Homo sapiens: one gene and its partners. The protein of the gene in region 6 interacts with the protein of the main gene of each other region in a pairwise test. Each region holds a gene or a part of one and is shown on either strand. Other genes may lie near its edges.

Region 1 (3,500 bases), on a different chromosome or scaffold from region 6:
TTATCCAGCTTTAAAGCCCAGCCCTGCTCCCCTCTTCCAAACCACTTTTTCCTCGATGGTTATTATCTCAGACCTTCTTAACCGTGGCTCTCCCCTCCTTCAGAATATCCTCCTTGTGGAACCCTGCCCAGTTCTAAGATCTTTGTATTCCTTTGGCACTTGTAGACTCATGCTATCTGAATCTGCACCTATTCATAGATTTATTTATACAAGCAGTTTTGAAGTAATCATGCTTGCATTTCTTATTTCATGAGTGAGGTCTTGGGGAGAAGGAACAGGAGCTCTGCTTGTCAAGTCTCCTCCCCTCCCTATCCGCTACTATTTACTGCATGCAGTAGATAACTGGTGACATGGACTGAGCACATTTGAGGTGTTCATTCCGTGGGCATCAGCAGACCCTCAGAGGTGCATTAGCTAACTATAGAACCTCCTCTTAATTTCTCTATAAAGGGGGCTGTTTGCCACACTTTGGGGCTCAAAACCTCACCAAGAAATGCTTTAGAAAATGGGGCTTGCCGCCGGGCGTGGTGGCTTACACCTGAAATCCCAGCACTTTGGGAGGCCGAGGCAGGCGGATCACCTGAGGTCAGGAGTTCGAGACCAGCCTGGCCCATATGGCAAAACCCCATCTCTACTGAAAATACAAAAATTAGCTGGGCGTGGTGGTGCACACCTGTGGTCCCAGCTACTCAGGAGGCTGAGGCAGGAGAATTGCTTGAACCAGAAGGCTGAGGTTGCAGTGAGCTGAGATCGCGCCACTGCACTCCAGCCTGGGTGACAGAGCAAGACTCCATCTCAAAAAAAGAAAAAAGAAAAAGAAAATGGGGCCTGCCCATTAAATGGACCAACACACAACACTTGATAAACATCAGGGTGAAAGTACAGGAAGTGACTCACCAAGAAGCCTTGAATGGAAAAGTGTAGCAGATGGTTGCTAAAAGAAATCTGACAAAGCCTGGGGAACTCTGTAGGGTGCAGAGACTTTGACAATGTGTATGAGAGACATTCTCTAGGTATCATTACTTTAGCTCATGTTTTGTTGCATTTTAGTCTTCTCAGCAGGAAGACTGTTTCCAAGAAAAATGTATTATTTATTGACCAGGCGCGGTGGCTCATGCCTGTAATCCCAGTACTTTGGGAGGCCGAGGCAGGCAGATCACGAGGTCAAGAGATCGAGACCATCCTGGCCAACATGGTGAAATCCTGTCTCTACTAAAAATACAAAAATTAGCTGGGCGTGGTGACATGCACCAGTAGTCCCAGCTACTCAAGAGGCTGAGGCAGGAGAATTGCTTGAACCTGGGAGGCAGAGCTTGCAGTGAGCCGAGATCATGCAACTGCACTCTAGTCTGGCAACAGAGCAAGACTCTTTGTCTCAAAAAAAATTTTTTTATTTATTTTACAAACACTTATGTGGTAGTTACCATATATGCCACATATTTATGAGATAGGTACTATTATTATTCCCATTTTACAGATGGGAAAACCAAAGCCCAGAGAGGTTAAATAACTTACACAAGGTCACACTGCCTTGTAAGTGGTAGAGGCAGGACTCAACCCGAGGCAGTCTGGCACCAAAATCCACATCCTCACCCATACTGCAATATTCCCTCGAGGATGTGATACATGAAATGTATCTCTAGTGTTCAAATAAGTAAGGCCAATGCCAGTGAAAAACAAGTCTTTTTTTTTTCTTTGAAACAGGGTCTCGCTCTGTCGCCCAGGCTGAATGCAGTGGTGTGATCAATCATGGCTCAATGCAGCCTCGACCTTCTGGGCTCAAGTGATCCTCCTTGAGTAGCTGGGACTACAGGTGTGAACCACCGTGCCCTGCTGAAAAAGGATTTTTTTTTTTTTTGAGCCAGAATCTTGCTCTGTCGCCCAGGCTGGAGTGCAAGTAGAACAATCTCGGCTCACTGCAACCTCCACCTCCCAGGTTCAAGCAATTCGCCTGCTCAGCCTCCCGAGTAGCTGGGACTACAGGTGCGCCACCATGCCCAGTTAATTTTTGTATTTTTAGTAGAGACCGGGTTTCACTGTGTTGCCCAGGCTGGTCTCAAACTCTTGAGCTCAGGCAATCCGTCTGCCTCGGCCTCCTAAAGTGCTGGGATTATAGGGATAAGCCACCGCATCCAGCCTTTTTTCTTTTTCTTTTTTTTTTTTTGAGATGGAGTTTCGCTCTGTCATCCAGGCTGGAGTGCAGTGGCGTGATCTCGGCTTACTGCAACCTCCGCCTCCCAGATTCAAGCAATTCTCCTGCCTCAGCCTCCTAAGTAGCTGGAATTACAGGAGTGCACCACCACGCCCAGCTAATTTTTGTATTTTCAGTGAGACAGGGTTTTGCCATGTCGGCCAGGCTGGTCTCAAACTCCTGAACTCAGGTGATCCCCCTGCCTCGGCCTCCCAAAATACTGGGATTACAGGCATGAACCGCCGTGCCTTGCTGAAAAACGATTCTTGATAAACAAAAATAAGAGTTGCCTCTATTTCTAGAAATGTGGAGCCCTCAAGAATTTTAATGACAGAATTGGCAGGTGATGGTGTCTGGTGCCTGTAATCCCAGCACTTTGGGAGGGCGAGGCGGGTGGATTGCTTGAGTCCAGGAGTTCGAGACCAGCCTGGGCAACATGGTGAAATCCTGTCACAACTGAAAATATAAGAATTAGCTACTTGTGATGGTATGCACCTGTAGTCCCAGCTACTAGGGAGGCTGAAGTAGGAGGATGGCTTGCACCCGGGAGGTCGAGGCTGCAGTGAGCTGTGATTGTGCCACTGCACTCCAGTCTGGGTGATAGAACAAGACCCTGTCTCAAAGAAAAAAAACAAGAATACCAGAATTATTATTTAATTCAGCACCTCTTGTGTGCCAGACACAGCGCTAAGTGCCCTGCATACTTTGTCATTGAACTATACCAACAATTTTCTGAGAAGGGTTCAGATATGATTCCCATTTCACAGATGAGGCTTATAGAGGGGTTAAGACATTTGCTCAAGGTTACACAGCAAAGCCTTGTAGACCTTTTTTTTTTTTTTGACGGAATCTCGCTCTATCGCCCAGGCTGGAGTGCAGTAGTGCAATCTTGGGTCACTGCAACCTCTGCCTCCCGTGTTCAAGCAATTCTCCTGCCTCAGCCTCCCAAGTAGCTGGGATTACAGGCACCTGCCACCACGCCCGGCTAGTTTTTGTGTTTTTAGTACAGACGGGGTTTCGCCATGTTGGCCAGGCTCTTCTCGAACTCCTGACTTCAGGTGATCCGCCCGCCTCAGCCTCCGAAAGTGCTGGGATTACAGGCGTGAGCCACTGTGCCCGGCCTCAGTAAACTTCTTAGTGAGTTCCTAATAGTTCCCTAAGGTGAGGAGAGAAGAAAGTTCCTGCTGCTCCTGCTGCTTGCGTCAGCCTCCCTTCTTCCTCCCCAGGGCTGCAAGTGGAATTCATCAACCCCATCTTCGAGTTCTCCAGGGCCATGAATGAGCTGCAACTCAATGATGCCGAGTTTGCC
Region 2 (3,500 bases), on a different chromosome or scaffold from region 6:
CCAGGCAGTGGCTGAACGCTAGGGTGTTAACAGGAATGAGAGGCGCAGTCGGCTGGGGCAGTGGTGGGAGCTCCAGGCCTCATCCTGACTCCAGATTCCATCGTTTCTTGCTTCTTTCTCTTCGGTGAACCTTTTGACCTGCAAGGGTAGCTGGGGGTTAACCTGCTACCCTCCAGGTTCAAATCCCGGTTCTCCTGTTTACTAACAGTGTAAGCCCAAGCAGATTTCTTGGCCTCTCTGTGCCTCAGTTTCTTCATCTAAAAATGGGGGAAAGAATAGGATCAGGCAGTTATCATAGGACAGAATAAATTAATATCCAGTCACACACCACACAATGATGAACCACGTACACAATGGTGCTGCCATAAAATTATTATTATTATTATTATTATTATTTTGAGATGAAGTCTCGCTCTGTCCCCCAGGCTGGAGTGCAGTGGTGCAATCTTGGCTCACTGCAACCTCTGCCTCCCGGGTTCAAGTGATTCTCCTGCCTCAGCCTCCTGAGTAGCTGGGACTACAGGCATGTGCCACCACACCCGGCTAGTTTTTGTATTTTTAGTAGAGACGGGGTTTCGCCATGTTGGCCAGGCTGGTCTCGAACTCCTGACCTCAAGTGATCTGCCACCTCGATCTCCCAAAATGCTGGGATTACAGGCGTGAGCCACTGCGCCTGGCCTCCCATAGAATTATAATACTGTATTTTTACTACACCTTTTCTTTCTTTCATGATTGTGTAGTGGCATGATCCTGGCTCACTGCAGCCTCAACCTCCCAGGACCGAGTGATCCTCTCACCTCAGCCTCCCAAGTAGCTGGGACCACAGGCATGCACCACCACACCTGGCTAGTTTTTAAATTTTTGTAGAGATGGGATCGTCTTATGTTGCCCAGGCTGGTCTTGAATTCCTGAGCTCAAGCAATTCTCTCACCTTGGCCTCCCAAAGTGCTGGGATTACAGGTGTGAGCCACCATGCTTAGCCTACTTTACGTTTTCTTTTCTTTTCTTTTCTTTGAGACAGAGTCTCGCTTTGTCGCCCAGGCTGGAGTGCAGTGGCGTGATCTCGGCTCACTGCAAGCTCCGCCTCCCGGGTTCACGCCATTCTCCTGCCTCAGCCTCCGTGTGTGTTACAGTGACCTACAGTATTTAGTACAGTCACATGTGGTCCAGATTTGTAGCCTAGGAGCAATGGGCTATGCCATATAGCCTAGGTTTGTAATAGCCTAGACTATTCAGGTTTGAGTTCACTCTATCACCTAATGGCACATTTCTCAGAGTGCATCCCCATGGCTAACTGACGCATGACTATAGTTGCGCTCTTATATTTAGTTCAGAATTCAGAACCTCTGCTTCCCTCCTGAGAGCCATCTCTGACTGTGCCAACTCAAAACAACTGCCCCCTATTTACCCACATCCCTGGACCTCCCCTCAGGGGAGTGTCTGAGTGGGCATAGGGTCTGTGCCCCCAGCTCCCTGCCCTCACCCTTGCCTTTCTCCCCACCCTCCTAGAAGTGAGTGAGTGTGGAACTGCAGGGCCCTGAACGGCCCAGGGCAGGGCATTGCTTTGCCTGACTTGCTGGGGGCCTTGGGACAGCCCCTTGCAGAGCAGGGAGACTTGGCTGGGAGATCTCCAACTTTCCTTCCCGCCCTCGCTTTTGGGGAGTCCCATGACTTGCTGTGTGACCTTCAGGGCGGGAGGAAGGGTTGAGAATCTGGGTGAGGCTCTCAAGGCTCAGGAAGGAAAGTACGATCGCTGCTTAAAAAAAAAAAATAGATTAGTTGCTGCTTGAAAAAACAAAAAAGCGTAAACCAACAAAAAAGCATAAACCAACAAAAAAAGAAAACCTGCTAGCCAAGAGCCCACCCCACCGGTGGGGGCAGCCTGGGCTCTTCGGGGCTGGGCAGGAGGGTGGGCGGAGGCAGGTGTGTCTGGATGACAGCCGTGTGTGGGAGAGACTTCATCTGGCATCCTCGCTGCCTCCTGTTCCAGCCCAGCCTTGGCTCTGATGCTGGCCCAGCCTTTCCCATGATCCCCTGGGGGGAAGAGAGCTGACCTTAGTGGGTGCCTCCTAGGTGCTGAGTACCTTCATTTACTCCTCCCAATTCTTCTCCAGGGAAGGTGCAATGCTTCCCATGTTAGGGTTGAGAAAGGCAGTTTCTGAGGAGTGAACTTATTTCTGGAGTCACACAGCTCCTAAGGGGAGGGGCTGCAGTTCAAACACTGGGGACTCCAGGGTCCACGCTTCCAGGGGGAGCCCGGGGAAAATGCTGGAGCTCCACGCTGCTGGCCCGGGGAGGCCGAGGCCCCAGCGCCCTGCGGAGAGCCTGCTAGGGCCTGGTGGGTTGGGTTATAGCACCCCTCTGTGGACACAGCTGGCCCTGTGATAACCTCAGCTGTGCACTGGAAAGGGTGGAAGGTAAGGAGGGGGCCTTCTGCCTCAGTTCGTCTCATTTCTCCTAACCTCTGTCCCAGCCTGACGCTGATAACCAGTTCCTGATCTCTGGGCCTGCAACCTCTTCCAAAAAGTCACCATTACCCCATTTCCCAGTAAGCCTCCATTAGCCTCAACCCCAGTCTCAACACTCGGCTTCAGCCTAGTTGTGACCCACAGCCTCGGTTGTGACCTCTCCTAATTCCAACTCCAAGTGCTCACCCCAGCCTCCCTCCCTCCCTCTGTCCCTCCCTCCCTGCCTCCCTCCCTCTTTTCTTTCCTGTCCTTTTTTTCCCTTTCCTTTTTGACAGGTTCTTGCTCTGTCACCCAGTCTGGAGTGCAGGGACGCAATCATGGCTCACTGCAGCCCCAAGCCTGGTCTCAAGCCATCCTCCCGCCTCAGCTTCCCACATAGCTGGACTACAGGTGCACATCACAATGCATAATGTGATAATAAAAAATGTGTTATCACAGTGTGATAATAAAAAAATATTTTATTTTATTTTATTTTATTTTGAGACCAAGTCTCACTTTGCTTCCCAGGCTAGTCTTGGACTCCTGAGTTCAAGTGGTCCTCCCGCTTTGGCCTCCCAAAGTGCTAGAATTACAGGTGTGAGCCACCATGCCTGGCCCAGGCTACTTGCATTACAACCCCAGTCTCAATTCCAAATCCACATCACTTTCTGCCCCAGTCACCTCCCTGGCCCCCTGTGACCTGTTGTTCCTGAGGAAGCAAGATGGGGTCAGATATAGGAGGACAAGAGTCCCTGGACCTCTCCTAAGGGTCTAGGGGGCCAGTCCAGCCCAGGGAGCCCTGGCCTTAAATGGACCTCCAGGACCCTTCAGGTGTGCTGTGGGCAGACCTGACTCAGGAGTGAGGAAGCCGCCTGCATGCCAGGCTTGTTGAAAAATTCACTGGGTTGCCAGTTAGGGAGGAATCCATTCTATTTTGTTAGGATGTGGTTGTACTGGAAACATGGGCTTTGTCAGCAAGACCGGAAATGCGTGGGTGAGGGCCTGGATCGTGACAGGAACTCATTTGGGAGGCGGCGGGGGGGCAGCCTGTCC
Region 3 (3,500 bases), on a different chromosome or scaffold from region 6:
AATGGAGTGGGATATTTACAAGAATTGGGGGGATTTTGGTCAAACCCATTCTAAAAAAGTATAAACATAATTTCATGCCCTGACATCCTGGTGGAAATCCAGTGAACTTTGATGCTCAGCTTTGCCACTTAGTAGCTCTGTGATTTGTGGTCTTGGGCAGAGTCTCTCTTGAGTCTCCTTTGGTTTATCTGGACTAGGGGATAAAGGGAATGGACGATCTGACCCTTAGTGACTACAGCTTCTGACCATCATATCACATTTTCTTTTGTTCTTTTCTTTTTTTTTTTTGGTGGGTGGGGGGTGCGGGTATGGAGTTTCGCTCTTGTTGCCCAGGCTGGAGTGCAATGGCGCCATCTCGGCTCACTGCAACCTCCGCCTCCCGGGTTTAAGTGATTCCCCTGCCTCAGCCACCTGAGTAGCTGGGATTACAGGCGCGCGCCATCACGCCCGGCTAATTTTTGTATTTTTAGTACAAACGGGGTTTCATCATGTTGGCCAGGCTGTACTCGAACTCCTAACCCCAGGTGATCCACCAGCCTCGGCCTCCCAAACTGCTGGGATTACAGGCATGAACCACCGCGCCCAGCCCATATTTTACTTTTGCTTTGAATAGATGGCACCCTTTGTTCTGCACCTCAAATGACAGGTGTCACGGGCACCTTCAGTAGATTCCTGTTTTGTATGTAGCACTAAACCAGTGGTTTTTAGCTTTCCTTGATTCACAACCCCTGAGGATCAGGACCCTGTGCACAGAGATAAAATTTTGCATGGGCTCTTAGGAACTTTGCTGACTCCATGACTCCTCTGATACCACCTGGAGGTCCATGCATAGGAATCAGATCAAGAACCCCAGCTCTGTACCCTTGAAGGGAATGCCAGCAGACACAGTCAGATACTGGTAGCTGATGTGACCAAAAGGTGGTTGTTAGCCATGTTTGACAAAGATCAAGCATGCACATATGCAAATGGTGGGGGATAGGGGCAGTGAAGGACAGGTTCTCCAGGACTGTCCTGTTGTGGAGGAGCTCTTCCGGACGGCAGTCTTGGAAGCCACCTGAAATAACTTCATGAGTTGGCCTCATTTGATCCTTGGCTGTCCTGAACCAGTTCATATGATGGTGACTTCTATTTAGTTGATACCGTAAAAGGTGATGACTTTTTTTTTTTTTTGAGATAGAGTCTTGCTCTGCCACCCAGGCTGGAGTGCAGTGGCACGATTTTGGCTCGCTGCAACCTCTGCCTCCCAGCTTCAAGCGATTCTTGTGCCTCAGCCTTCCGAGTAGCTGGGACTACAGGCATGTGCCACCTCACCCGGCTAATTGTTTGTATTTTTTTAGTAGAGATGAGGTTTCGCCACGTTGCCTAGGCTGGTGTCGAACTCCTGACCTCATGTCATCCACCTGCCTCAGCCTCCCAAAGTGCTAGGATTACAGGTGTGAGCCACAGTGTCTGGCTAAGGTGATGACTTTGAATGACTCTTTAATACTGCTGTCAACTCTAGAGGTTGGAGTTACAACCTGAATTACATTAAAAGGCTATGTTGAGTAATAACGTTACGTTGAACTTAAGTGCTTTTGAACCTTTTGGTTCTGTAGATAATTAATTTTCTTTGAATTGACACCATATTTATTACTGAGTATCCGTGTAACAGATTATTCACTGTGGTCATCTAGGACTCCTTGACTGGAATGAAAGCTGTTTCTTTCTTTTTATATGAGAAAGAGAAATCTCTTTTGTTTCTTTAATTTAAAATTGATCTGTCCTATTAGTCATGCAGTGACTAATAGTGCTTGGTGCTTCACAACATTTTGTATAGTCCCCACTGTATTTCGTTTCGGAAAAACTGACTATGTTGGGTGTGGTGAGACATAGGAACCACTCCTATCATTCTCTAGAAAATTGTCAAAGGTGCTTTCTCTTTACTAGGTCCAACAGGAGTAAACCAGTACTAGCGGGAGCCGTGTACACTTTTCTTGTTCCTTCTTCCCTGTGGCTAATTCTGAGTTCTCTTATTACTCTACGTGGCATGGCTTCCTAGGTGCACAAAAATATGAGAACTGCATGTTGTAATACCTGGGCTTCCCACAGCCTTATGCTACTTAACAATAGAATCAAAGACTGTTGAGAATTGTAACACTTAGAAACCTTGGAGTCTAGTTTTTTTCACCTCACTGATGAGAAAACAGGCCTCCAGAGAGTCAGATGACTTCCCCAAGGTTACTCTACTAGTTATTGGTGGAACTGAGGCTGACACCTATCTCAGTCTCTCATCTGAGACTCCCTTTCCCAGTCCTGTCCCCGTTAGACCACTGGTCAAGTTTTCTTGATGATATATGTGAATTAAAAACCAGTCAGTCTCCTGATACTTTTGTGCTTCGAATGCTTTTCCTGGGTGTGTGTGTGTGTGTGTTTATAACTTCTTTATTCACTCTGACTCATAACTGATGTGCAACAAAAACTCCTCTGCATGCTAAACCACAGTTTAGAGAAACCACTTATTTTAAAAATGGCAGCCTGGTCTGTGCCATATAAATTTTGACCTCTGAATATTGAGTTGTAAAGTATTTATTATGAAACTGTGGGATGTTTATTTAAGCTTAAACTTGAAACCTAAAAGTGAAATTAAAATAATTTCATATCCCAGCCTTTGGATCTGATTTTGATCGTGGTCAGGATTTTGAAGTGTTTTTGTGAGTAATGTCAGTCTTAAAAGTAGTTGTCTTGAGGTGTAAAGATCATATGAACAAAATTAAGATCTAAATTATATTTAGGAAGTGAATGGATGAGGTAGAATTTGGTGTTTTCAAACAGTCATGATCATTTTAATGTACTTATAGAACCTCTATTCTGAAAGTGAGTTGTCCTTTTAAAAAAGTAGTCACCTTCAGAGTGTGTGTGTGCACCCACTGACTTCAGTCTTTCAAGAAGTCCTTGTTGGAATTTTCCTCAGCTAGATTTCAAGCCATGTCAGGACACCACTCTCATTATATTACCATAATTTTTTTTTCTTTTTTTTTTTAATTTTACTTTTTTTAAATTCCAGGATACATGTGCAGGACATGCCATAATTTTCTTAAAGTCAGATTCCAGCATCATCTACCTGTTGATAGCAAATATGACCCTGAGTGAATTTTTTTTTTTTTTTTTTTTTTGAGACAGAGTCTCGCCCTTGTGCCCAGGCTGGAGAGCAGTGGCGCGATCTTGGCTCACTGCAACCTCTGCCTCCTGGGTTCAAACAGTTCTTCTGCCTCAGCCTCCCAAGTAGCTGGGATTACAGGCACCCACCATTACACCTGGCCAATTTTTATATTTTTAGTAGAGACGGGGTTTCACCATGTTGGCCAGGCTAGTCTCGAACTCCTGACCTCAGGTGATCCACCTGCCTTGGCCTCCCAAAGTGCTGGGATTACAGGCGTGAACCACGTGCCCAGCCCCTTGAGTGAATTTTTAAAAACTGATATGTATAATTCACATTCCATAGCATGTATCCTTTTAAAGTG
Region 4 (3,500 bases), on a different chromosome or scaffold from region 6:
CCCCTTGAGATAGGGCCTCTGCTCCCCAGTTTGCCCTGAACCAGTCTTTTAGTAGGGAGATGACTCCTTACCATTACACATGGCCAGCTTCCCTCAGGCTACCTGCCTGACCTTTGAAGGCAAAAGGAGACCTTCACTTCTTGGTGTCTGCCCTCTAGACAGGATGAAACTAAATGTGGATCCAACTTGCGGGGCTGGAGGGCTGAAGTGTCCTCCACTCTGATACAGGTACATGCCAGATTATGCCCATGATCCCAAGAAAGTTCCAGTCCTTCTCATCTGAAGACTGCTCTTGTTGATTTTATAATTAACAAAGCCTCTCTATGATTTTTTCTTTGGAGTGAAAGATCTCAGTTTACCCCATTGTTTGATTTTGAAGCCTTTTATCTTTTTGTCTTTCTGCAGGTAATTAAATGTCGTAATGAGATCATGCACTCTTCAGAGATGAAAGTATCTTCTACGTGGCTTCGAGATTTTCAGATGAAGATCCAAAATTTTCTGAATGAATTCAAGAACATCCCAGAGATTGTGGCAGTATACTCCAGAATAGAACAGGTAAAAATCATGTTTAATAGTTCTGGCATACAGAATGAAGAGAGAGAAAACAACAACAGCCACACATTTAGAATTTGAAGTTTATTAGATTTAACCTAAGTGTTAGAATGTAAGCAGGGGAAAGAATGCCAATATGAAATCTGTAATTATGCTGGGCTGAGAAGCTTTTCTGTGGTCACAGTGCACTATTAATATGGATCCAGTTCATTGTGTTTAATTATAAATTATTTGAGTAATTCAGTGGAATGCCTTCTTCATGAAATCAGTTCATATATTTGTGTGGCAATCCCTCAGCTGTTGACGTCTGACTGGGCTGTTCACATCCCCGAGGAAGATCAGCGAGATGGGTGTGAATGTGAAATGGGAACTTACCTGAGTGAGAGCCAAGTCAATGAAATAGAAATGCAGTTACTAAAGGAGAAACTTCAAGAGATATATCTTCAAGCAGAAGAACAAGAGGTGTTGCCTGAAGAGGTAAAAGAAAAGTGTTATAGGCTCTGTGTGAGTTAACAACACAAAGAAAGATTCTGGGGAGGAAGAGTAGCTCATCTTAACAAATAATTAATTGTGTTTTTGATTTATAAGTTAAATAATTTCCAGAAGTGTGAATATGCTTTTGGCACAGAGTAATATTACCTCTTAACAAATATTTTCACTTTCACATCAGCAAACATTTGAATGCCTAATCTGTGCCACAAAGTGGAAAAATGTGATAAAGGCTACAATAGAATTCTGAAAAAAATGCTCTAGACATTCTCTGCTGGTCAGGTGGATTGCCAAAAAAGATTTTGCCAAGAAGATGCTGTTGAGCTGTGGCTCACAGAATCAAATAAGAGTCTGACAAATTGGCAAGAGAAAAAGATTCTTCTTGGCAGAGGGCACAGTACTTGCAAAAGCAGGAAAGGATAGTCTGAGCCTGGGCAAGAACAGGTGAGCACACGAGCTATGGCCAGGTTTGTGGATGGTAAAGTGGGCTGGAGCCACATGCCAAAAGGTTTTCTAGGCCATGCCACGGGGTTTGGGCTTCATTCCCAAAAAGCAGTCAAGAAAGGGAGATAGGATCAGATATAGCTTTTAGAAAGTTAACTCTTGTGGTAGTTGGAGGTTGGATGAGTGGCTAGCAATTACCCAGAAGGCTCTTGCAGTCGTGTGAAGGTGAGAGAGAACAGAAACTAGGGGCTGTGGAGGAACTGGATTCTGGAGGCAGTGCCTGAGCAGAACCGATGGATATTGGTGGCCAGGGAGATTACTTGGAGCATGGCATGGGGCTGGAAAAGGGTGGAGAAGGTGGGGAGAGGAATGTTTAAAGGATTATCAATGTTTCTAGTTTAGGACCTGCAGACTAATGATGGTCTAAACTCCCAAGTACAGGAGAAACAAATCTCCTTTGTCACATGCAAGGTATAAAAGAAATTAACAGTAGTAGAATTATATTCCAGTAAGGTTCAGAAATATTTCAGCACTGGCTGGATTAGACTTCTAGATCACCAGGAGATATTGGAAAAATCATTTCACCTCTCCATTCCTCCTTGTCCAAGGAAAGTAGTTTTGCTGGTTACCTCATTAAACATAGGGAGAGTTTATTAAATGCAAATTCACGGAGCTGTGCTCCTTGCAGATAACTATGCCTGTATTAACCATTCCAGCTTTGATCCAGGTGCTTTATTCAGCATGGTGAGCCCCTTTAGCACAAGGGCTTGGTACCCCTGGTTTTTTGGGTGTGCCCACCATGGTACACCATAGGTATTTAAAATGATGTATTAGAATGTTTATCTTCTCTTTTCTAAATCCATGTGTTTGAGTTCCTCTGTCTTTATTTTATAATGCCATTAGAGCCCCAGTTTTCTTTCTGCTGCTGTTTTCAGAAGCTAGAGCCAGGATTTTGTGTCAGTTGAGAGCTGGAAGGGAACCTGGCAGTCATCTTATATCCCCTGCTTTGCATGTGAGGCAAGGGCCCCAAGGAGCTTGCACTGGGTCTGAGGGCTGGCCCGCAGGTCTCCCCCTTCTGATCCTGTGGCTTCCCGCCTGCTGTGCTGCAGATCTTATATAATGAGGAGCTGGCAGCTGTACGTTTTGAACCCCCATTATCTGTTTTACAGAAAGGAAATAGGGATTAATTGGCTTGTCTTCTGGGTGGAGTCTCTAGGTGGAGTTGATAAATTCTCATTTTTCATGCTTTCTCTTCAGCAGACCATGGCATTTCTCATAATATTTCAGTTGGTCAAAATGTGAGGATTGATTGGCATGTTACCTCAAAAAAGTTGGAGGTCAGGTTTCCACATATATGAAATTTGACGTCTTCAGAAAGTTCAGTACCCTATATGATTTTCCATCTTCTTTAGGGTTAGTTGCCAAAGTCAGAGGATTTGTTAGGACCAGATTTCAATGAATGTAAAATGCTGTCAATTGTAAAACATACCATTATTTCAGTTACTTCTAAGAAAGAAAAAATAATGCTGCCAGTTTATTACAAGACACTATCAATGGTAAGATGCATTCTCATTTGAGACGTTACAATAGGAAAAAGTGTGCATCCCGGGATCAGGAAATACAGTGATTATATTATGACCCCAGGACTTTTGTTATAAATGTTATCAAGACCTGTTTCTTGTTTTTGTTAAAACAGTAGGGGTGAAGGCGAGGTGCAGTGGCTCTTGCCTGTAATCCCGGCACTTTCAGAGGCCAAGGTGAGAGGATCACTTGAGCCCAGGAGTTTGGGACCAGCCTGGGCAATGTAGGGAGACCCCATCTCTTAAACAGACCAACCAGCCAAAAAATGTAGGGGTAGGGTTAGAAAGCTAAGTTGAGAAAAATGATTGATGGTGGTAATTCAGTGTGACAGCTCCTGCAAACACATCATGGAGTGCCACAGAGAGCTCACCATCTCCACAATTTTCTATTCGTTTGGTGACCCTTAAAGGTATAGCACATTAGAAAAAGTGGGC
Region 5 (3,500 bases), on a different chromosome or scaffold from region 6:
TTTAAATGACTTGCTCCAAGTCACACAACTAGTAAGTAGAATTGGGTTTTAGAGGCAGGATTTCTGCCTCTAGGTTCGGAGCTTTTTATTACTCCAGAAACTACAATAAGATAGATGTCTAAAAAAGCAGAAGAAAGAAGAAAGAAAATAACAATTATTCTGTGTATGTCATGGTCATTTAAAAATATCTATTGTTTTTAATTTAAGTTATATTTTGACAAAATTTTTCACAGCTTTGTATGTAATTTCATAGAGTACTGATGGAAGAAAGAAAATTATGTTTCAGGAGCTATGTAAAAGAGCAGGAAATAAATCCACTTTATTGTCTGAATTTTATAAACTTTCTTGGTTCTCAGATAATCTTCTACAGATAAATGCCACACTACTTCTGATAAGAGCAAGAGATAAATAACACTGCACATTTTAAATGTCATGTACTGTGAATTTTATACTGTGATCTTATAAATGAATCCATAGGAGAAAAAGAAAATGCTAAATAAGTACAGTGATGGGGCTTACATTCTGGTGCTGCTGGTCTTGTTGATGATAACAGATTTTCCTGTTTGATCCACATTGTGATCCAATCCAAAATAAGCTGCCACTCGATGGACAAGCATCCTCTGATACGATGACATCTGAGGGAACTTTTTATAATGATTACTAGAACATAATTCAAGAAAAAGTGGAATCAGCATTTTCATTTTTTGCCCATAATACCTTTTTACAAGTATACACACAAAACTATTTCTTCTTCATCTAAACCACTAAGCCTATTGCATTTCTGGCATCACTTAATGTCCTAATTTCTAGAAAAATTTTCTACTTATTATAGATTTATTGATTAAGCCACAATAAACATCTTTGTTTCATAGTTGCACATTTCTCTTGCCAAAGAGAATGTAATGTCTGTTGGACAGTATTGTATTTTAGTCCATGATACCTTATCAACGGGGCCAGGCACAGGACAAATGATGTGACATAATACGTGATTGCAGATGTCTATATGGAGATGTGTCATTACACGGTTTATACTGAAGCAGCACAATTATTTCCAGGCATAACTGACTGCAGCCAGCTGGAGCCCATTAAAAAACTATAATAAAAATGAAAAGGGTCTCTTCTTGTTACAGCTACTCTATGCTAATCAGTGGCCCACTGTTTATAGCCATTTTGTCAGGAATTTAACAAGCAGAAGCACACATGGTCCAAGCAACAATTCTCATCAGCGTATAGTCCTAACTCCAATAATGTCTCCATTTAACAAATCAAGGAACATATTAAACAATGTTTTGTCTATCCCTAAGTCTTTCCAGAATGGACAATTTAACTCCAATACCAAACTAGGATACATGATCAAATTAACCAGCATTGAAGTTTAACATACTTGTTGTCAGCAATGAAATCAATAATTTCCTGCTCCATTTTCAAAAGTATCATCCTGTCCCTGCAAAATAAATGTTAAATTTAAAAGGTTTTATGTATGTTCCACTTCCAAAAACCTAAAGAATTAATTAAATGTATGGAAAAGATTACTTAAATGTATGCTGCTACAAACTTATACCTAACTCTTCTTTGGAATATGCTGACCATTTACATATTATTTCATTTCATTCATTACAATTTATTTCATTGTTTAAGAGTATTCCTTATCTTATTTGTTAAGTATATTGAAATATCTAAATTTTGTAGTCTTAATGTTAATTATGGCATGCAAAGTACTAGGATCAAAAAACCCATCAAATAAATAGTATATTTCAAATAAATAGGAAACTGGAACAAAACGAAGGCCAAGTATTGACTGTAAATGAATACATAGCTGCATTAAAACATAATTGGCTTATTTGACAACAATAATTTTTATTTGCTATTTTTCCACCTTAGCCAGTATCTCTTTGTGATCTGAAAAGCAGAACTGTTAAAGTATAATTTATTAATTGGGTAACTACCCAGTTACTAAGACTCTCTATAAAAAGTAAACATGCAAACGATTAGTAGAAAAAAAATACAGGAGACAGTTTAAGACGTCAGGGAAGGTATCTGCATTTCACAATGGCTTTCTTAGAAGTGTTGGATTAATAACTTTGATTGTAATATTCTATTTGATCCTTCTAAAAATAAGAGGCTCATTTAATAATTTACCTGGAATTATTCTTTAATGTGTTAATCAGAAACTCGTGTAAGTCTATGCCTGTAGAATCCGTGTATTCTTGGCTGCAATCTGAAACAAATAGCAGGACGGAGCTGTCAGGAATGATGGTGGAAAGGTGGGGTAGAAAAGGTTTCCCCAACCTATCCTGTTTCCCCCTGCTCAGATAAATTTTAGGTGAAGCTGTTGGTATAAAAATACATGTTTCAAAACTAGCAATCTGGCAATATAACATCAGAATGAAAATTAGATTCCGGGATTGAAAACACCCAATAAATCCTGAATATGGAAAGATCCAAATGTCATAGGAGGGGAAGTGGGCACAGTCTGGGTGTGGGGGAGAGGTGGAGTCAAATATCACGTGTTCATTCTGCATTGTAAATAACAAGGGCACAAACCCCACATGACAGAACTCCCACCTACAGAGAGAGCTCTCAAGAGTTTGAGATCCCATGGAACCCTTTTTCTCTTAAAACAAAGAAGGCAAAAAAAAAAAAATGAATGTTCTGTTATGAGACTATCTATTAATCGGTACAAAATACAGGAGGACACTAAATATTCCCAAGACTTTTAAATATCCTAATGCTGTCCAAAGCTTAATTTCTAAAACTGTTTTAGAAACCTGAACTTCTTTACTGTCATATACACCTTGGATTTTAGATATTCCTCAGCAGAAACAACAATTATAAGCAGATGTATGGTTATAGAACACATAACTGTTAGAGGCGGTTGTCATTTCTCAGTTGACCAGATGCTCTATTCTTTCCCAGTTGTCCAGTTTGTTTGTTTGTTTGTTTAAGTCTACTGCAAGCCTGTTTACTCATGGTACTCTTCATTTCAACTTAGTTTTGTTTTGTACCATGATAGGTATGGCAAAAATTTGGACAGTTTGGACTGTAGGTTTTGAGTTTGTAAATGTATGACTTTTTGCACAGTGATTTATTGAAGTAGAAGTGGGTATTTCTTAAATAAACATTACTTGATAGTAGATGGGTTCAGAGACTAAATTCTGAGCCAGATAAAATGTGAATCATGTATTCCGTTGACATATACATCTGTACTTTGGGGACCATATCACTTATGAACTGAGAATTGCTAATCCACTCTCTGTCTTTTAAGATAAACATGAGAGTTAAGATATCAAACTTGGTATCATTACTGTTCACCAATCCAAGTTAATCGGTCCAAGAAACCTAAATTTAGGGCAGATTTATATTTATTCCTTGTACAAGCTTGTCACTGAAAACAGAAGATTAAAATGTGAATCCAAAGAAATATGTGATCCTAAAAATAACCTGTCTAGCAACACAAGTAATGACACTATAAACAGAAAGAAAATCAAGTTCACATTTTT
Region 6 (3,500 bases):
CCTACAGGGGATATGTATTGAGTATTTGAAAGACTTCGGAAATAACTGTGATTGTTCCTTTACAAATGGATTTTAACTGCATGCTTTCATATGGCCTTGTTACTAGGTAATCAAATGTTCTGTGTTACTTCCCTGTATATTCTGGATTCAGATCTTTCTGAGTTTTATTTGTGGCTAGTATCTCCTAGTTGGTGATTATTTTTCACTCTTTGTGGTGTTTTGGTGAGCAGACATTATAAATTTTAATGCAGTTGAATTTATCATTTCTCATTATTTTTACAGACTCTTCCCTATCCTCATCTTAAAGATTTTCTTCCTAATCTAAAAGTTTTAAAGTTTTGTCTTTAATCCACTTTAATTTGATTTCTCTTCTATGGTAGGGACCAAATTTTATTTTTTCCACATAGGTTACTAATTGTCCCCGCACTGTTTATTGGAGCCTTTCCCCGCACTGATATGCAGTACCATATCTGACACATCAATTCTCTATATATGTTTGAGTCTGTTTCTGATGTCTCTAATCTAAATTAGTGTCACATTGTCATCTTTACTGTAGAAATGCTGTAGCTCTATAATAACTTAATATTTGTAGAGAAAGTGCCTAACTTTGTTTTCCCGCTTGGATCTTTTTTTTTTTTTTTTTTTTTTTTCAATTTGGCTGTTTGCCCTTTTAAAATATTTAGAATCAGCTTGTCAAATCTGATGAAGAATCCTTTTGTGGTTTATATTTGAATTGCGCTGAATGTGTGTGTTAGTTTAGGGGATAATTTATCATCTTATTCGTGAATATGATATATACCTCTGTTTAGCTCTTCTTCTGTATCTTTACATAAAACTTTGTATTTTCTTTGTGAAAAGATAATACATATTTTATAGGATTATTTCTTTGTACCATTTTTGTTGTTCTATTATAAATGGAATCCTTTTAAAATTTTAATTGTGACCAGCTTTGAAGAAGCATCTCTTATGACTTTTTCAGCTGATAAATTTTCCTGAAGATTATAGCAAAAGTACCAAATTTTGAGGGTATTAAAAAGCAGAAATTAATTGGGGTGTATCTTATCACATCTGTTTTTAGTAAGTGTGAAAAGGTCAATATTGTCCATTTATTTGTCTTTTCACTTAGAGATTGTGTGAGAGAACTAATATTCATAGACCCTGTTGACTCAGGTAGTTTTCAAAGTGTGTATGTGTTTAAGTGGTGTGTGTGACTTTTTTCTGAGACAGTGGTGAGAAAATTGACATTTTTACTCTTTAGAATAGTTCTTAGAAATGTATATTTAATATACTAGTTGAGGTCATTGTGTTCTATCAGGAAAAAAAATTGTTCTCTCTGCTTCCTTTTGTGTAATGTTCTTCTGTTTTTCTTTTTTTCACTTGACCAAATATCTAGCTTATTCTGTGTTTACTTCAAGTCGCATTTCCTTTCATGCCTTCCCAGACCATTTAATCCATAGTTATTTCCTCTTGTTAATTTCTAAATTCTTACAGATTCTACTTATAAACATAGAATGGCCTCCATATTGTATCATTAAATGCAGAGACCAAGGGCACAGTACAAAGGGTCCTATTTTAAAGATCTGTGTGTGTGTGTGTGTGTGTGTCTGTGTGTGTAAAAATTTTTGGAGGAATGCACTAAAAAATTTTTTTTATGATAGTTAACTTTTAAAACTGGGTCTGAAAGGTCTAAGATGGAAGGAAGAGTTTTACTTCATGTGCTTTTATACTATTTGAAAATTTTGCTATCTGCATGTATTACTATTTATTTTCAGGGTTATAGTGTTTATTAAGTATGTAACAGTAGGAGTTGGCTCAAAATTATCTGGAAAAATAAGAAGTAAACAAGATTGCCAAAATGTTGATGATAAGTGAAGCTAGATAATAGACCCATGGTGATTCATAACATTATTCTCTCCTTTTATGTATATTAGAATTTTTCACCATAAAATTTTAAAAATTAAACATTGATATATTCTAGCTATAATTTAGGTCTGAAATGGGCTTTGCAATTCGAAACACTTGTAAATGTATCAGGACACTAAAGATTCCTATTTTTTTATTGCTATATAATTCACCTACCACAAAATCATCCTTTAAAAAAGTATGTAATTTGGTGGTTTTTATTATATTCACAAGATTGTGCAGCCATCAGCAGTATCAAATTCCATATCACTTCCCAAAAAACCCACACTGATTATCAGTCATTGCCCCTCCTTCCCTATTCCCAGCCCCTGGCAACCATTATTGTGACATGTGTAACTACTTTATTTCTCTTTGTGGTTGAATAATATTCCACTCTATGGATTTACTACATTTTGTTTATCCGTTCATTAGTTGATGAATATTTGGGTTGTTTGTACTTTTTTGACTATGTATTCATTACTTGTTAAAGTTTAAATATGTAAGAAAAGACCTATGGTTTTTGTTTGTGTTTTAGGTGGGGGGAAATGATTCTATTTTTATTCTCAAAACCGTTTTTGAAAAACTTTACTGCTAATAAATTATGAGGTTTTGGAACATACACTGTACAGTTTCATTAAAAGTAAAATTCTTGTGTCATTTAAGTAGAAATTGTTTGTATTTTAGATAACATTTGGTCAGCCAGGCTTGGACATTCAGAGCAGAAGTATGGAATACGTACAGCGGCAAATATCCAAGGAATGTGGAAGCCTAAAGTCCCAAAATAGGGTAAGTAATGTTAGTTTATCTTGTGATATGGAATTTAACTAATTAATAGATAGGTAAAGTTTTCCAGTCTTTCTAATTCTCCATATAGTTGAATTGTACTAGAAAATTTTTCATTGTATAAATTTGCTGCCTATGTGCTTAAACGCTGTTAGTTAAAAACTCTGCAAACTTCTCATTTGAGTCTAAAAGATTGCCAGAGCTGCATTTATTAGATAGGACCAAAAGGAATTATATATTGTTAATTAAATAAACTGTATCTGTCACCCCACCTTTAGCTCAGACCTAGAATTTTCTTAGCCCTAATTCCATGTATCTAGGAAATAGAAGTTTGCCCCAAACTGAGTCAGATGCTTACTTGTAGTAGACTAGTCACTGTGTCCAGGGACTGGAGCTAAAGATACAAATTTGTCTACTTAGAAGCCTGCATTTATGGATGATGTAAGGGGTCAAAAGACTTAATTTTGTTCTTTGGCCTCAAAGAACCAACCTTCCCAGAAGGGTTGTGGAAGTAGGGGTATTTTACGTCATTGTTCAGAGACTTTTTGTGTACCCAAGCTACACACATGTGTGTCTTTGTATTAATTTGCTAGGACTCCCACAACAAAATATTACAGACTGGGTAGCTTCAACAACAGAAATTTATTTTCTCACAATTCTTAGAAGTTCAAGATCAAGGTTGTTGGTAGGTTTGGTTTCTTCTGAGGCCTTTCTTCTTGGCTTGCAGGTAGCTGCCCTCACATGGTCTTTCCTCACTTTGCCCTCACATGCTCTTTCCTCTGCCCGTACATCCCTGGTGTCTTTCTCTGTGTGTC
Region 7 (3,500 bases), on a different chromosome or scaffold from region 6:
GATGGCCCCTTTCATGCTTGTCTCCAAATTTGAGTAAAAAATGTAGACACACACACACACACACACACACACACACACACACGTATCTTCAAGGGACCAGTTTTTTCACTGCAGTCTTTTGTTTTACAGCTGTGGAAACTGAGGCCCAAGGTCATGTGGGTTAGGACTGGGATCCAGGACTCAAAGTGTTTCTTATAAAATTCTGGTGCTCCTTAGGGTTGAGGGTGGTGGGTGAGTGCTGGACAGGGGGAGGGGAGTGGACAGGACTGAGGTCGGATGCCTGTGTTTCAGCCCGGGCAGTGAGTGTGGATGGCTTGGCAGGTGAGCCTGCTGGAGCTGGAGGACTGGCTTCAGTGTCCCATCTGCCTGGAGGTCTTCAAGGAGTCCCTAATGCTACAGTGCGGCCACTCCTACTGCAAGGGCTGCCTGGTTTCCCTGTCCTACCACCTGGACACCAAGGTGCGCTGCCCCATGTGCTGGCAGGTGGTGGACGGCAGCAGCTCCTTGCCCAACGTCTCCCTGGCCTGGGTGATCGAAGCCCTGAGGCTCCCTGGGGACCCGGAGCCCAAGGTCTGCGTGCACCACCGGAACCCGCTCAGCCTTTTCTGCGAGAAGGACCAGGAGCTCATCTGTGGCCTCTGCGGTCTGCTGGGCTCCCACCAACACCACCCGGTCACGCCCGTCTCCACCGTCTGCAGCCGCATGAAGGTGGGGAGTGAGGGTGCAGGCGGGGCGGCGGGGCCCGCGGGGACTGGATCCTGTGCTCTCTGGCGCTATCAACTGGCACCAAAACGGATCCAGCTATCCTCGATTTCCCTGCAGCCCTGCCCTGGCGCATTCATTCCTTAGTGTTTGAGCGGCAGCTAAACCCAGGTGCTGGGGATTGAAGCTACACGCACAGGATGGGAGCTCCCTGGTGTCACGTGCTCACCCCTTCCTGTTTTTTGTTTGCAGTTCTGGTTTGTTTCTTTTTCTTTTTTTCTTTCTCTCTCTCCCGCCCCCTTCCCTTCCTCTCTCTCTCTCTCCCCCTCCCTCGCCCGCCCCCCCTTTCTTTTTCTTCTTTCTTTTTGGAGACAGCGTCTCACTCTGTTGCCCAGGCTGGAGTGCAGTGGTGTGATCATGGCTCACTGCAGCCTCCAACTCCTAGGCTCAAGCAATCCACCCACCTCAGCCTCCCGAGCAGCTGGGACTACAGGTGCACACCACCATGCCCAGCTCATTTTTTATATTTTGTAGAAATGGGGTCTGGTTATGTTGCCCAGGCTGGTGTTGAATTCCTTGGCCTCCAACGATCTTCCTGCCTGGGCCTCCCAAAGTGCTGGAATTATAGGCATGCACCACTGCCCTACGCCCCTTGTTTGTGTCTGGACACTCCCCTGTTTGCACTCTCTGGTGCATGAGAGTGGGGACTTCATTTTGTCCCCTGGTGTATTTCAGTGCCTGGAGCCATGCCTGGCACATTGTAAATGTCCAAAATGCTGAATCAGTGAATTCCTGCCTTTATAGGCCATCACCAAACCTAGCAGATCATTCTTTAAGATGAGTAATAATAATACCTGACTGGGTGTTATATATATAAAACACCTGTTATAAAACACGTGACTGGGTGGCTTATGCCTATAATAACAGCACTTTGGGAGGCCGAGGTGGGTGGATCACTTGAGTCCAGGAGTTTGAGACCAGCCTGGGCAACATAGTGAGACCCTGCCTCTACAAAAGTTTCAAAATTAGCCTGGTTGGCCAGGCGCAGTGGCCACTCCTGTAATCCCAGCATAAAGCTGGAGGGAGCATGGGTGGGGGCGAGATAGGGCCAGCGAGGTAAGCTGCGGCTGGGGCATGGAGAGGCCAGTGTGACCCGGGAATGGATTTGGAGTTTATTCACAGGATGAGGGAGAAAGGCGGGGGCTGGAGTGTTTTAAGCCAGTGATGACATGCTCAGATCTCTCTGGCAGAGGGGAGCTTTGAGGGTGAGGCAAAAGGACAGTGAGAGATGAAGGTGCCAGGACCTAAGTTGGTGGGAACTGGGACAAAGGCCTGGGGCAGACCAAAGACAAATTTCAAACAGAAAAAAACCCTGACAACTGTGTGTGGCAAGGAGGGTGAGGGATGGGGAGGTTGACTCCAGCTCTGTAATTCCCCCTTGCACAGAGGAAGTGATCGCAGGGGAGGATCCGGCGTGGGCAGGTGGAGCGGGAGGTGCCTGGGGATGTGCAGTCGGGTTGAGGGGTGTGCAGACCAGGACAGCGGTGGGGCTCAGGGCAAGAGGTGTGGAGGGTCCTTCCTCTTGGTGGTCACTGAAGTCCCCTTTGGTGGAGAAGACCAACCCAGGAGAGTCTACATAGTGATAAGGGAAGACACTGATGATGACCCCAAGGGGTACCAGGCTTAAAATCTGGATTGAGAGAGAGAGAGCCCTGAAAAAGGAATAGAAAGAATCCTCAGAGCAGGAACACCGGCTGAGTGTGGCCTCCCGGAAATCAGAGAGACAGACTGAAGGAGGAGATCACGTGTGTGAAATGTCTCTGAGGACTGAAAAGTGTTAAATGTAGCAGTAAGAACTGATTATCTTGGCAAGAGCAGGTTTAGGGGAGTATGGAAGGTGGAAGCCAACTGCAGGTGAGGAAGCCGAGTTTATGTTTTATTAGTTGATGGGAAGGAGGGAGGGAACAGGCTGGGAGATTGTCTGTCCTTTGTAGTTAGGATCCAGCAGCTCAGCTTGGGTCCCTGTTTTAGATTTGGGCTTAATTTTTTTTTTTTTGGTAGAGACAGGGTCTCACTATTTTGTCCAGGCTGGACTCAAACTCCTGGCCTCAAGTGATCCTCCCGTCTCGGCCTCCCAAAGTGCTGGGATTCCAGGCATGAGCCACTGTTCCCGGCCAGATTTGGGTTTTGATGATCCCGAGGCTCTTCTCTGTTGCAACACAGAATACAACTAAATTGCACTCCTTTATTGCCCTCTTTAAGGTGTTCCCGTTGCCTCCTGTTTATTGAGATCTTGAGATGCTCGATTGATGGGTGCATTGATTTGCATAACTTAGTTCTTCTCACGGGGAAGGAATGAGTCCCGTCTGTCTGCCTGGGGAGGGTGACATTGGAATGCTGTTCTTAGGCCTCTGTGAGATGTTCTGATGCCTCATTCTCCAGAGCAAGGACTCTGTCCGTTTATGCCAGCAAGTGCTTGATTCTTTACCCAACTCCCTTCCTGAAAGCCCCTTGCAGCTCTCTGGTGCTTGGGCACGATCCAAGCCAAAAATTCTGTACATTGCATGGGTATAAACCGACGGGGGCTCTGGTCAAGTCATGGAGTAGATGGTGGTCCAGGAGTCCTGGTTGGCACCCCCAAGGCTAGGTCAGATTTGGGGCCCGGGCAGTCCAGGAGAAGTGCATTTATGTCAGCTTGGGGAGGTCGCAAATCCGTGCTGTGTCCAAGCCCACCAGGAATGGATTCAGGTGTTTATAGGTGTGGGGATTCACCAGGTTAAACCCAGGCCCGTGTGAGC

What was found.
Region 1: the proteins of SPRED1 (region 6) and NR1H3 interact in binary tests that used the Homo sapiens proteins (3 or more experiments, as listed by UniProt).
Region 2: the proteins of SPRED1 (region 6) and MICOS10-NBL1 interact in binary tests that used the Homo sapiens proteins (3 or more experiments, as listed by UniProt).
Region 3: the proteins of SPRED1 (region 6) and PPTC7 interact in binary tests that used the Homo sapiens proteins (3 or more experiments, as listed by UniProt).
Region 4: the proteins of SPRED1 (region 6) and CXorf38 interact in binary tests that used the Homo sapiens proteins (3 or more experiments, as listed by UniProt).
Region 5: the proteins of SPRED1 (region 6) and ARPP21 interact in binary tests that used the Homo sapiens proteins (3 or more experiments, as listed by UniProt).
Region 7: the proteins of SPRED1 (region 6) and TRIM74 interact in binary tests that used the Homo sapiens proteins (3 or more experiments, as listed by UniProt).

The regions. Positions count from the first base shown.
Region 1 is NC_000011.10:47,264,496-47,267,995, forward strand, and holds part of NR1H3 (oxysterols receptor LXR-alpha), read left to right. Parts: intron 1-3,417; coding exon 3,418-3,500. UniProt on the Homo sapiens protein: Nuclear receptor that exhibits a ligand-dependent transcriptional activation activity.
Region 2 is NC_000001.11:19,648,979-19,652,478, forward strand, and holds part of MICOS10-NBL1 (neuroblastoma suppressor of tumorigenicity 1 isoform a precursor), read left to right. Parts: intron 1-3,500. UniProt on the Homo sapiens protein: Possible candidate as a tumor suppressor gene of neuroblastoma. May play an important role in preventing cells from entering the final stage (G1/S) of the transformation process.
Region 3 is NC_000012.12:110,576,819-110,580,318, reverse strand, and holds part of PPTC7 (protein phosphatase PTC7 homolog), read left to right. Parts: intron 1-3,500. UniProt on the Homo sapiens protein: Protein phosphatase that plays an essential role in mitochondrial metabolism and biogenesis. Positively regulates biosynthesis of the ubiquinone, coenzyme Q. Dephosphorylates the ubiquinone biosynthesis protein COQ7 which is likely to lead to its activation.
Region 4 is NC_000023.11:40,634,062-40,637,561, reverse strand, and holds part of CXorf38 (uncharacterized protein CXorf38), read left to right. Parts: intron 1-405; coding exon 406-555; intron 556-849; coding exon 850-1,029; intron 1,030-3,500.
Region 5 is NC_000003.12:35,688,025-35,691,524, reverse strand, and holds part of ARPP21 (cAMP-regulated phosphoprotein 21), read right to left. Parts: intron 2,219-3,500; coding exon 2,140-2,218; intron 1,445-2,139; coding exon 1,385-1,444; intron 661-1,384; coding exon 520-660; intron 1-519. UniProt on the Homo sapiens protein: Isoform 2 may act as a competitive inhibitor of calmodulin-dependent enzymes such as calcineurin in neurons.
Region 6 is NC_000015.10:38,346,836-38,350,335, forward strand, and holds part of SPRED1 (sprouty-related, EVH1 domain-containing protein 1), read left to right. Parts: intron 1-2,586; coding exon 2,587-2,688; intron 2,689-3,500. UniProt on the Homo sapiens protein: Tyrosine kinase substrate that inhibits growth-factor-mediated activation of MAP kinase. Negatively regulates hematopoiesis of bone marrow.
Region 7 is NC_000007.14:72,962,967-72,966,466, reverse strand, and holds part of TRIM74 (tripartite motif-containing protein 74), read left to right. Parts: intron 1-291; 5' UTR 292-309; coding exon 310-708; intron 709-3,500.